Linked DNA regions of Homo sapiens: region 1 is linked to region 2. The links come from fine-mapping of genetic effects on gene expression. A gene starts in region 2. The other region holds a variant in brackets. All regions are shown on one strand. Distances are from middle to middle. Region 1 overlaps LPP (LIM domain containing preferred translocation partner in lipoma). Region 2 holds the start of TPRG1-AS1 (TPRG1 antisense RNA 1).

Region 1 (5,381 bases), 120 kb after region 2:
CAATGTAAAACCTCACTCATGCTTGGAAATTCTAAAGATCTTTTGTTTTGTTTGGTGTGTATGGAAATTACATAAAATGTCCATTTCTATCTTTCACACAGGGACGCCATCAGCCATTATATTTTCACAGAGCTTATTTCATATCTCTTACATTTATACATGATGATTTAGATGATTTATACTTTCAAAAGTTTCTTAATATATCTTTTTTTTTTTTTTAATGAGATGGGGCTTCACTGTGTTGTCCACGCTGGTCTGAAACTCCTGGACTGAAGTGATCCACCTGCCTCAGTCTCTCAAAGTGCTAGGATTATAGATGTGAGCCACCATGCCCAGCCAATGTATCTTTTAATCTTCAAACTATCCCATGTGTCCGGGAGGGCAAGAGTTACTGTTTTACAGAAGTAAAAAAACCCTGAGGCTTCAAGGCACTATTCAGGGTCACATGGTGAGTAAGTAGCCAAGCTGGGGTGAGGACTCAGGTCATTCAACTGCTAAGTGTGAACTTTTTCAAACCCAGTATGTATATTGCCCCAGATAATAGGATTTCAGGTGTCGACGTGGCCAATTTTAGCCACATATACTTGGATTCTTTCATTCCCCCTCTCTGAGCTTCTGATTCCTTATTAGTAACATGCAACTGGTAATATCTGAAGTTTGTACCTCACACAGTGACTCTAAGTATCAAATGAAAAGATGTATGACATTGGGTCTTCAACTGCAAAGTGTTAAACATTTGTATAAGAGTATTATGACTAGGGGTATGGGGCATGCATAGAGGTTTTAGGAGGTGAGTGGGTGACTCCCACTGGACAGAAATGGTTAAGATCGTGTGTAAGTGGAACGAGGCTATGGGAACTGGCCTTGTAGATCATAGTAACTTGATCTGTGAGAAGATTCCCATGAAGGGACAAAGGATAGGCAGGTCATTGAGACAAGGACCATTAGTTCGGTATTCCCGTAAGAGGTGGGAAGGTATGGTGATTAATAGGCGAGGAGAGGCGGTGGAGGGAATATAGCTCTTCTTCTGATGTGATACAAAAATGACAGGAATTAGAGAAGAGTTCCAAAAATGAATGCTAATATAAGATGATTGTGCTTAGAAGAACAGTATCCCATTTGTTTCTCATTCAGCAGCCAAACATAAAATCTCTGATGTGCTGGGCACAATGGGGGGTATAGAGATAAATGAGAGGTGGTCTTTGCCGATAAAAGATCACAATCTAGTAGGAGAAAGAAATACCGACAAAACTATAGATATTTTGAGAAGCATGTAATACTAGAGGCACGAAGTCAGATAATGCTATATACATAACGCATACATATATTCACACTATATATTACATACATAATACCTAAAACACAATATATAATATTGTTTAAATAACAAACGTGACAATCACTATATTTATAGGAGACAGGCCCGAGGTAATGATTGTGTTACATGTGTCATCTCATTGAATCCCTGCAACAACCCAAGGAGATACTAGTTTCCCTAATGACTCTTGATAAACAGACAAGAAAACTGAGGCTCAGGGAGTTCTCTTAACCTGCCCAGGTCACATGACTGGGAAGGATGCAGCTGAGTTTTTTTTTTTTTTTTTTTTTTTTTTGAGACAGAGTTTCGCTCTTGTTGCCAGGCTAGAGTGCAATGGCGTGATCTCTGCTCTCTGAAACCTCCACCTCCCGAGTTCAAGCAATTCTCCTGCCTCAGCCTCCCAAGTAGCTAGGATTACAGGTGCCCGCCACCATGCCCAGCTAATTTTTTTTTTTTTTTGTATTTTTAGTAGAGACTGGGTTTCACCATGTTGGCCAGGGTAGTCTCAAACTCCTGACCTCAGGTGATCCGCCCACCTCGGCCTCCCAAAGTGCTGGGATTACAGGCATGAGCCACTGCATGCAGCTGGGGTTCTAATTCCAGCTCAGGCTGCCTAACTCTGGAACTGAGACTCTTAGCTCCTTCTCCCCCAGCACTCCCTTTTCCCTCCCAGCTTATTTCTCTCCCAGCATGTACTTCCTTCCAATATTCTATATAATTTGCCAATTATTTTGTTTATTGTGTCCCCACTAGAATGGAAACTCCACCAGGGTATTATTTTTTTGTCTGTTTTCTTTACTGCTGACCACTCAAGAACTAAAGTGGTGCCTAGGACACAGTATGTGCTCAATAATATTTGCTGAGCAGATAAATGAATAAATGTTACACTTTATCCTATTGTGAGCCTGTCTCATTAGGGAAAAATGTGGTCAGATGGAAATATTTAGAAGAGGGATGAGATGTACCATACAAAGGTAGACAGAGAGGAAGGTAGGAGAATGGAAAACGTTTTTTATATAAAGAAAAACTGAAAGGCAGGTGGTCGGGAAGCAGATGGGAGGAGCAGGGGTTGCTTGTGGGTCAGTGAAGAGGACGATGAGAGATTTACAGTCCACATTCCAGCAGGCACTTGGCTCAGAACACACAGAAGCTCTGAATTCACTCCCATAATGCTGTTACATGCTGGAGAAAGGAATCTTCCCCCTACCCCTGCCCCCACCATTTGGCTCTGGCCTTCATCTCCTTCTACTGATGGGGCACAAGACTCCCAATATTTTCTGTCTCTCTGTTCCACTCCCTGTTGTGGAAATGTTGCCCAGCTTCAACCCCACTTCTTTAATGCTGCCAATGACTCCGCCAGTTTGAACTCCAGTCATTAAGTCTTTTAACAAGAATGAAACTGAGTAGGACTTTTCTCTTTACCCAGGTTTCTGATTCTGCTCTGTAGAATCACCATATGATGGAAATAGTCATGTTTCCCTCTAAAGTTGCTGTTACTTTGTCTGTACTATTTGTATAGGCAGGGACTTAAACGTATGGGGTCATGTGCTGTGGGGTGGAAAACTGTCTTCTCACAATCATGTGTCTAATATGTGTGTCTCACTATTATTCCAGCCTTATTTCAAAAGAACATGTGGTGTTGGATGTCAGATGAGGTATGAGTCCTAGGTCTATTAATCACTCACTATGTGATCTGGAATGGTCCTATCTAAATCTTAGATTCCCCATTTGAAAATGAAGATGACCTGAGAGGTGGTTGTGGCTAGATTCTTTTGATGTTCATGCCAGCTCTAATAAT[C/T]CATTCCATTAATATGAAAATTGCTCAGATCTCCTATACAATCAGTCTCTTTTTAAAAGCCCCCAGTCAAAGGAACTGTTTGCACCAGCATTCCACATAAGGTTTCTGCCATTTATTCATTTACTTTTTCATTATGTATTCTCTTAACAGTACAGTGTGGGAGGAACTACCCTAGGCCTGATCAGGGAAGAGACAGGAGAAGATAAGATAGGATCTTATCATCATTATGAAGTTTAATATCAAGTAGTAGAGATAAGGCATATTCAACTATGTAAGAACACAAGTCAGAAAGTGATTAAGGATGACATAGAGAGGTGCAGAGATGAGAGTGGGGGGGGTCCAGAGATGACTGTCACTTTCAGCCAGGACAATTAGGGCAATATGTTTTTGAGGCAGAGGTATTTGAGTTGAGTCTTAAAGAACAGGGTACATGCTGGTGGTGCTGGTGTGGGGAGCTTGAGGGAGGGAATTCAAGGCAGAGAAAATAACGTGAGCAAAGACAGTGATGAGAAAACCTACAGCTAATGTTAAGGGAGGATGAAGGGAGTTAGAGGAACCCATGGGGTAAGACCATGGATGGCCTAGAGTAGCAATCTAAGATATCTAGATATCATTTGATAGTTATTCTGCATTGCACATCTCTCCTTGTATACAGTTTTCTGCCTATTAAAATGTCTATCTTAAAATGTACTGACCATGTGGTACTAATAATAGAACTTTCCAGATGAGACCCTCAACTATTTACTGCTGAAAGCTAATGGGGCAAGAATCGACACGAGGATAACAGGATCTCCTATAAGGAAACCTGCAGAAACCGCAGAGCATTTTGTTAGCCCCTCACCCAAAACAAACATATATTGGATCCACTTGCAAATGGTAAAAAACTTCAGTGAGTAGGAAAGCGTAGGCTTCTCTTTCTTTAGAGGTAACCTGTCCACTGGAGAGTCTACAAGTGTTTGCAAGTAGACTGTCCTCTCCAGTTCATCCTCTGCAGCTGCTCCTGAACCAAAATAAGTAACAGGCTATCCGGTATGAGTTGTACTCTACATAGAGTAGCACACATAAAGACCCATGGGAGGGCAGGGTGAGAGGCTGAGGGGGCGGAGGGAGGAAAGAAAGGCTAGGTATGATTATGTCACCAGGTATCCTTGGTAGACAGAAAATATCTTATACATTCTGCTTGAGTGTGGTGGCACACGGAGAAAAAAACGTGTCCTACGTCTGTCAGCATCAACAGCATGGGAACAGGACATCTCTGTGCCTCAGTCAAGATGGGAGAAGAGATTTCCCTTAAGATTGCCCTTAAATCTTAAGTATCTGGCAAAACAAACAAACAAACAAAAAACAAAAACAAACGAACAAAAACCATAAGCTGAAATGTGTGTGTGTATGTCTTTTTCTAGGTACCCATGGTAAAGGTTTGCAAAGGAGGCAGTCGGTTAAGGCTGTGGTGACCCTGGGCTGGGGAGGGGAGTTTTCGAGGTGCCCCTGGTATCTTCAAGAGCAGAGACATACACATTCCATTACTCTCTCACTCTCAGAACCCTGTCGCCTGCCAAACTGAGGATAATAGCAATAGATTCACACTTCAGATACATGTTTCCTGTCTTGGGAGAGCAAGAGCCCCCTGGGTTGAACCCTTCCTTAGCAGTATATACACCCAACTCTCGAGTTGACTAGTTAACCTTAGTGCTTTCAGAACTAGCTAAGCTCAATGCTTTGGGACCTTCACAGTACCTCCTTCTGAACTTCTGTGCTGTGACAGCTTTCTTCACCACCATACTCCAGTGATCCTACACACACACACACACACACACACACACACACACACACACACACACAGAGAGAGAGAGAGAGAGAGAGAAAGAAAGGCTGGGACTACTGCACCTATACAAAGACAAAGGCAGCACAGATGGTCACTATTCTATGACTTTACCATAATGACATTTAAAAACAATCATTGATGATATTCATAATCAGTCCTAACTTTGGGAAATGATTTTATAGTTTAAAAAGAACTTTCAAACTCAGACATTGCACATAGAATGTGTTGGGATAACCAAAACATAAGCAGAAAGGGCAAATGTTTTCTAGCCATTATGCAGCTGCTCTTGGTCACGTAAGATGAATTTCTGCTAATCCATAAAAGCAGCATGATTCTCAGATGTCCCTTCATTCGTCATTCCCAGCACCAATATCCCACCCTACTTGAGGATTCTAAAGCTTGGTATGTCATCATCACCTTGGTCTTTGATGGCTAAATTT
Region 2 (5,381 bases):
GTACCTTATGATGTACCTTAGCCATAAGGTACATTTTATATTATACCAAGACAAAGTCATAAACTGAGATGGCAAACCAGGATGTATTTATGATGTATTATGATATACCTTAGCCATCAGTATTGAGATCAACAGCAGAGTTTGTATCCACAGAGAAATCTCTATGGCATAAGAGGGATCTAGCAAGCACAAAAATGGCATAACCCAAGGCTGGCTGGGTGTACTGAGACTGAAAGAGAAAGAAGTGACATCTAAATAGAGGAGATGGCATTGAAGCTGGGTTTTGAGGGATGTGAAAGATTTGAATGTGTGGCAGAGATAGGCCAAATAGAGGCCATCAAATTCTGATGAGTTTAAAAAATTTTTTAAGACATCTCAGCCAAGGCCCAAGTGGCAGGAAAGCAGGAGGCGTCCATGGAGCACCGCGACCAGCCAGAACCCATCTGATGTGGCTGCCATGGAAGGAGTGGTAAGACCAACGAGAGATGAGGCAGGAAGGGTGCTGATGCCAGGCTGGGCTTGGTTCTAATTTCCTAGAGAGCACCAGGAGCGAGCTTTCCTCCTCTTATCAGCATGGCTGCACAAATCTCCATTCTCCTCATCCTGGACTTTTGTTGAGACTGCTCAGACCCACATCTCGTGGGCTGCTGCTAGTCTTACCAGGCTGACTGTCTTCCCTCCAACAAGGAAGGGAGTCTCATTTGAGGAACTGCACAACCTCTTCTGGTTTCTGTACCGGTCACTTTCTCTCTCTAGCCACTGGAGAAGTGGGTTGGAGCATTAGGGGGAAGTGTCTGTTTGGCAACCTCACAGGGCTAGAAAACTTGAAGAGGGTGGATTTTAGGGGCTATCCCCTTGAAAACATTCAAACGTTTGAATCTTTCTGGTGAGACCACTTGTATTCCTATTTTCCAGGAGTACACACAAGGCCAGAGGCACTTTGGACCTCAGGGCTTTCAGAGGGGTGAAAGACAAGGCGGTCAGGGAAAGACTTTCTCATTTGGCCTCACTGTTTTGTGATGTATGTCAGGAAGGTGTTATTGTGGTGAACAATGGAGAAGAAGGGAATTTAAAAGCAGAGAAATGAGTGACTCACCCAAGGTCACATAGCAAGTAACAGAGCTGCAAGCGGCTTGAATGCAAATCCCCTGGACCCAGGCCATGTATTCATGAACCTACCTCAAAGCCTGCTCTCAGAAAGAAGTGGAAGAGGGAGAGGAGGAAGACAAGAAAGAAGAAAGAGGAGGGGGAGGAAAAAGAGGGAGAGAAGCAGAGGAGGGGAGAGACAGCAGAGCCCTTCACTGTAGGTGAAGGACCTGGAACCTTCTCCTTTCACCCCTACTCACCCCCACTCCCTTAACTCCTCCTGGACCCAAGAAAATGTGTCCAAGGCTGTGCGGTAGGGAACGGCTGCTGGGTAACTTCTTTGCTGAGGCGCAAGCATGGCCCTGCGGGGTTGCTGAGCCTTTCAAAGGTCACTTGTAAACTCTGATGTGGCGCAGGGGCTGGCCCGGAGGGGCTGGGGCCTGGGCCAGGACGAGAGGACGGGCCTGCCTTTGGTGCCTAGAAATCAAAGCAGTCAACCTTGGGCTTTTTCTTCCCCCTCACACTGAGGCACTTTTATTGGCGAGATGAAGGGAGGCAGAGCGGGCCTTACAGTCCTCGCTTTGCTTTTGGAGGTTAATGACCCAGTTAGCAGCTCTTGGCTGCGTTTCCGACATTTTGCAGACATCAAGCCCCGCGTCTCTGCCAAGTACATTCTGTTCCCTGGAGCACATCCAGTGCATCTCAGATTACTATGTAATGCGACAAAGAGGGAGAGGTGGCTGGGAGGGGCATCGGGGAGCGGGGCGGGGAGGGGAGAGGGCGGGACGCAGGAGCGTGCGGGGAGGAGAGGAGGATGCCACTCTAAATATAGCTGCCCTCCTGGAATGCATCTTTCAAGGTGCTTATTTACTGCACAAGAGTGATCCCAGAGTGAGGGTACGATTGGGCCCTGTCGTCCAGGAATCCTGGAGCGCCGAGAGCGAAGCCCAGAACCAGGGCGAGGACAGACAGTGGGGGTGGGGAGGAGGCTGCAGGAGGCTCCTGGCTGGGAAGGGCTGGGAAGGTGGAATTCGAAGGGGGCGGGGCTAGGAGGTGGTGGCCCCGCCCACAAGGCCGCCGCCCCGCTTTGCAGCTCGAGCCTGAGCTGCAGCCTGCGCGCTAATTATAGACGTGAATGGAAAGCGGCCGCTTCTGAATGATCGCGTTGCTCGAGCTGCCGTTGGAAGCTTAGAAGCAGGTGCTACCGTGCTAGATACAAAGCGATCTATTTAAAAGCCCTCTGTCACGCACGCACACTTACTGACGAATCCTCTGGCTCTCTCCTACCACCGCCCGGTGGCGGATTCCGGAATTGGTTCAAAAGGCCTTGATCCCGAACACCCAGGACAGAGACAGAGTACTTTTCCTACCTCTTTCGCCTGCATCCTTAGAAAACTCCCGTGGATGAGAAGATCCCCAGGCCTTTACAAGCTGTTGTTTTACAAAAGGAGAAACTGAGGCAGGAAGAGGCGGTGGATGTGCACCAGAGCACGTGGTGCGTCGGTGCAATAGCTGAGGTAAACTTCTGGTCTCCTGACAGCCTCTCCATTTGCCTTACCGGGTTGGAACCTGAAGCAAGTCTCACTTTAACGCCGTTAATTTCCAGGCATGGATCTTTAGCCAATGATGAGCATCCTCCTCCTTTCCTGGTTCAGCGCCTGCTCCCTCCAGTCCCCACCCCCACCCCACTCCCACACGGAAAACTTGCTAATGCTGGCTGATTCTCATTGCTGGGTTTACTAGTTCAGGCCTGGAAACTGGGTAACCTCAATAACTATGACCATTTCAGTATGTGTGAGTCAATCTAATGTGCCCTCCCTCAGCATAATCCTGTCACGAGGAACGACGCAGGGGGCAAAACCTAGACTTTTCTTTCCCATCAGCATCTTGGCTGCACCTAGTGCTCACAGCCAAGTGTGTTAATGCACATGATGGCCTAATCCAGTCCATACGAGCACAGTGAAAATTCTTATGCCCATTTTATGGAATCCCTGTAGAAATGGAGTCTTGGAGGGAGGAAGTGACTTGCTCACAGTCATCTGCTGATGAGTGGTCGACTTGAGAGCCAAAACCAAGTTCTCTACCCTCGATGTGGGCTATGTCCAGTATTCATGCTTTGGCCTGCAAGGGGGAGCAGCAATCCACTTAGTAATAAAGAGGGATAAACCTACGTTCCCTCAGACACCTGGAGTGTCCTGAGGATCTCCACTCTGACCATTGGCCTTTTCTGCCTGTGGGTCTGGGGCCACTCCCACGCTAATCCACAGTATTAAACTGGGCATGGAGAGCTGCTGTCTTCTCTAGAAACCGAAATCTCCAAGTCCAGTAACTACATTCAGCTTCCAATAACAAGGCCAATCCTACTTACCACCTGGACCCATCTATGTCTCCCCACCTTTGCTGACTGCTTTGGACTTAACTCTGCCTGTGTCTCTCTTGGCTATTCCTGTAACCTCAAGATCTCCACCAGGGCAGATGGATAAAGAGGCAGCATCCAGTAACATGCTGAAAAAAGAAGGGAGAGGGAATAGGTGTGGATGATAGAATATTTTAGTTGTTTTTTATTTACCTCTTGGAAGCAAAGACTGTATCTTAGTCTTTGTAAGTCCTCCTTCTTCCCAACATATACAAGGTCCAGCCAGCCCAATGCACCGAGCATAGCAGACAACCAGAAATGTTAAAGAGTCATAAAACTTTCACATGGCTGTGGAAAATTGTATATACCTAGGTTGGTCACAGTCATGTTTCTCTGATAACAAAGATAGGTAGTTTTACAATACTGACAAATTATTTAAGCTTTCTAAGTCTCAGTTTTCTCATCTGTAAAATGGGCATAATTGTACCTCAAAGAAGCAGTACTGGCAGTGCTGAGCCAGGAAAAAAGCAAAATGTTCGCATGTGAATGGTTGTATCTACAATCAGGCTACTTAATTTGGAATCTGAATTCAGCTATGAGTCTAGCACTATGACTAGTGTCAGCACTCAGTAGTTCTTCTCACACAGGGTTGTTCTAGGAATTAAGCTGGATAACATATATGAGCACTCTGTACAGTGATATAAGATTGCTCACATACTTTATTATTAATAAATAAAGTTGCCCAGGGTTACACAGCTAACATACAGTAGAACTGGGATTTAAATCCAGATATGCTCCTGTCTCTGTCCTAGGTCTCCAGTCTCAAGTGCATAATAGTCATCATTACTGAGCACTTATTCAATAATATGGTTTTGCATTAACTGTGTCTGCTTCTATTTGAGATGCAGAAATAATAGACATGCCTTTAGGTTGGAGATAAGTAGGTAAGGGCCTAGGACAGATACACAAGTAACTGTGTAATACCAGTCAGTGGATGATGAGCGCTCTGATTAGCACAATAAACCAAATGCCATGAGCACCAGGGAAGAACAAGCAGATACTCCCCAAGGTGGGGAGAAGGGTTCAGGATGGCTGCAGTGAGGGTAAAGGAGCATGAACAGATCCTGGAAGAATTGGTAGCATTTGGACAAGTGGAGGTAGAGGTGAGGGAAGTTCCTGATAAAGGGATCAGCAAGAGCAAAGACCCAAAAGCAGGAAAAGAAAGGGAGGATTTAGAGAACAGCAAGCTTGCCAGCATTCAGAGAACATAGTGCCGGCGGAGAATGAGCAGGGGCAGAATGAGAAAGCACACTGGGAGCTAAGCAAGGAGACCAGGTGTCCCAGGGAGCCAGGGCAAGCTCAGCAGGGCCAGGTGAGTCTCTCTGATGACATGGAGGGCAGATGTGCTACAGTCTCAGGATGATAATGAGTGGAGAAATTTTGCTCTGGGGCCAGTTATGAGGCAGCAGAAGCTAGGGTAGCTTCATAGCTCCTTTGTAGCACCTCCTAGATGTTGTATTTGTGTATTTACTTGTGTTTCATCTTTTACGTTGGCCTATAAACTCCATGAGAGATGGGAACAGGAGCCTTTCCTTTCTTACTTGTCCCAGGGCTTACCACAGTGACATCCATAGTAGGAGCTCGATAAAGACTTGATGAGCAAGTGAATGCTTCTTTGACCCCAAGGCCAAGAGGACCACCACAGTGATCCAAACGTGGACAAAGGTTTCTCCAAGAAGGTTGTTCCTACCTTTAACTTCAGTAAACAGGTAGCCCAGGGTGGTGTAGAAGAGTTTAAAATTCACTGAGCAGGAATGCAGGACTTCTTTAATGATCCCTCAAATATATGTGCTGCAGTTTTAGAAAATGAAATCAGAAAGAACTGGGGAGAAAAGAAAGAAAAAAAATGAAACCTTGAGCTGAAATAAAACCCTTCCTG

Evidence for each region. PIP is the estimated chance that this variant, and not a neighbour inherited with it, causes the effect. A credible set is the group of variants that fine-mapping cannot tell apart.
Region 1: its variant is the best candidate, but not a certain one, in a credible set for the expression of TPRG1-AS1 in whole blood (INTERVAL, PIP 0.58).

What each region holds. Positions count from the first base shown.
Region 1 is chr3:188,824,847-188,830,227 of GRCh38, reverse strand. All of the region lies in intron 9 of LPP (LIM domain containing preferred translocation partner in lipoma), which reads right to left. Among named protein-coding and RNA genes, the nearest start is that of TPRG1-AS1, 120 kb to the left of the region's middle. The variant C/T (reference allele first, on the strand shown) is at 3,117.
Region 2 is chr3:188,944,501-188,949,881 of GRCh38, reverse strand. It overlaps TPRG1-AS1 (TPRG1 antisense RNA 1), which reads left to right and starts at 2,243. Exons shown (of 2, transcript NR_046873.1): 1 at 2,243-2,603.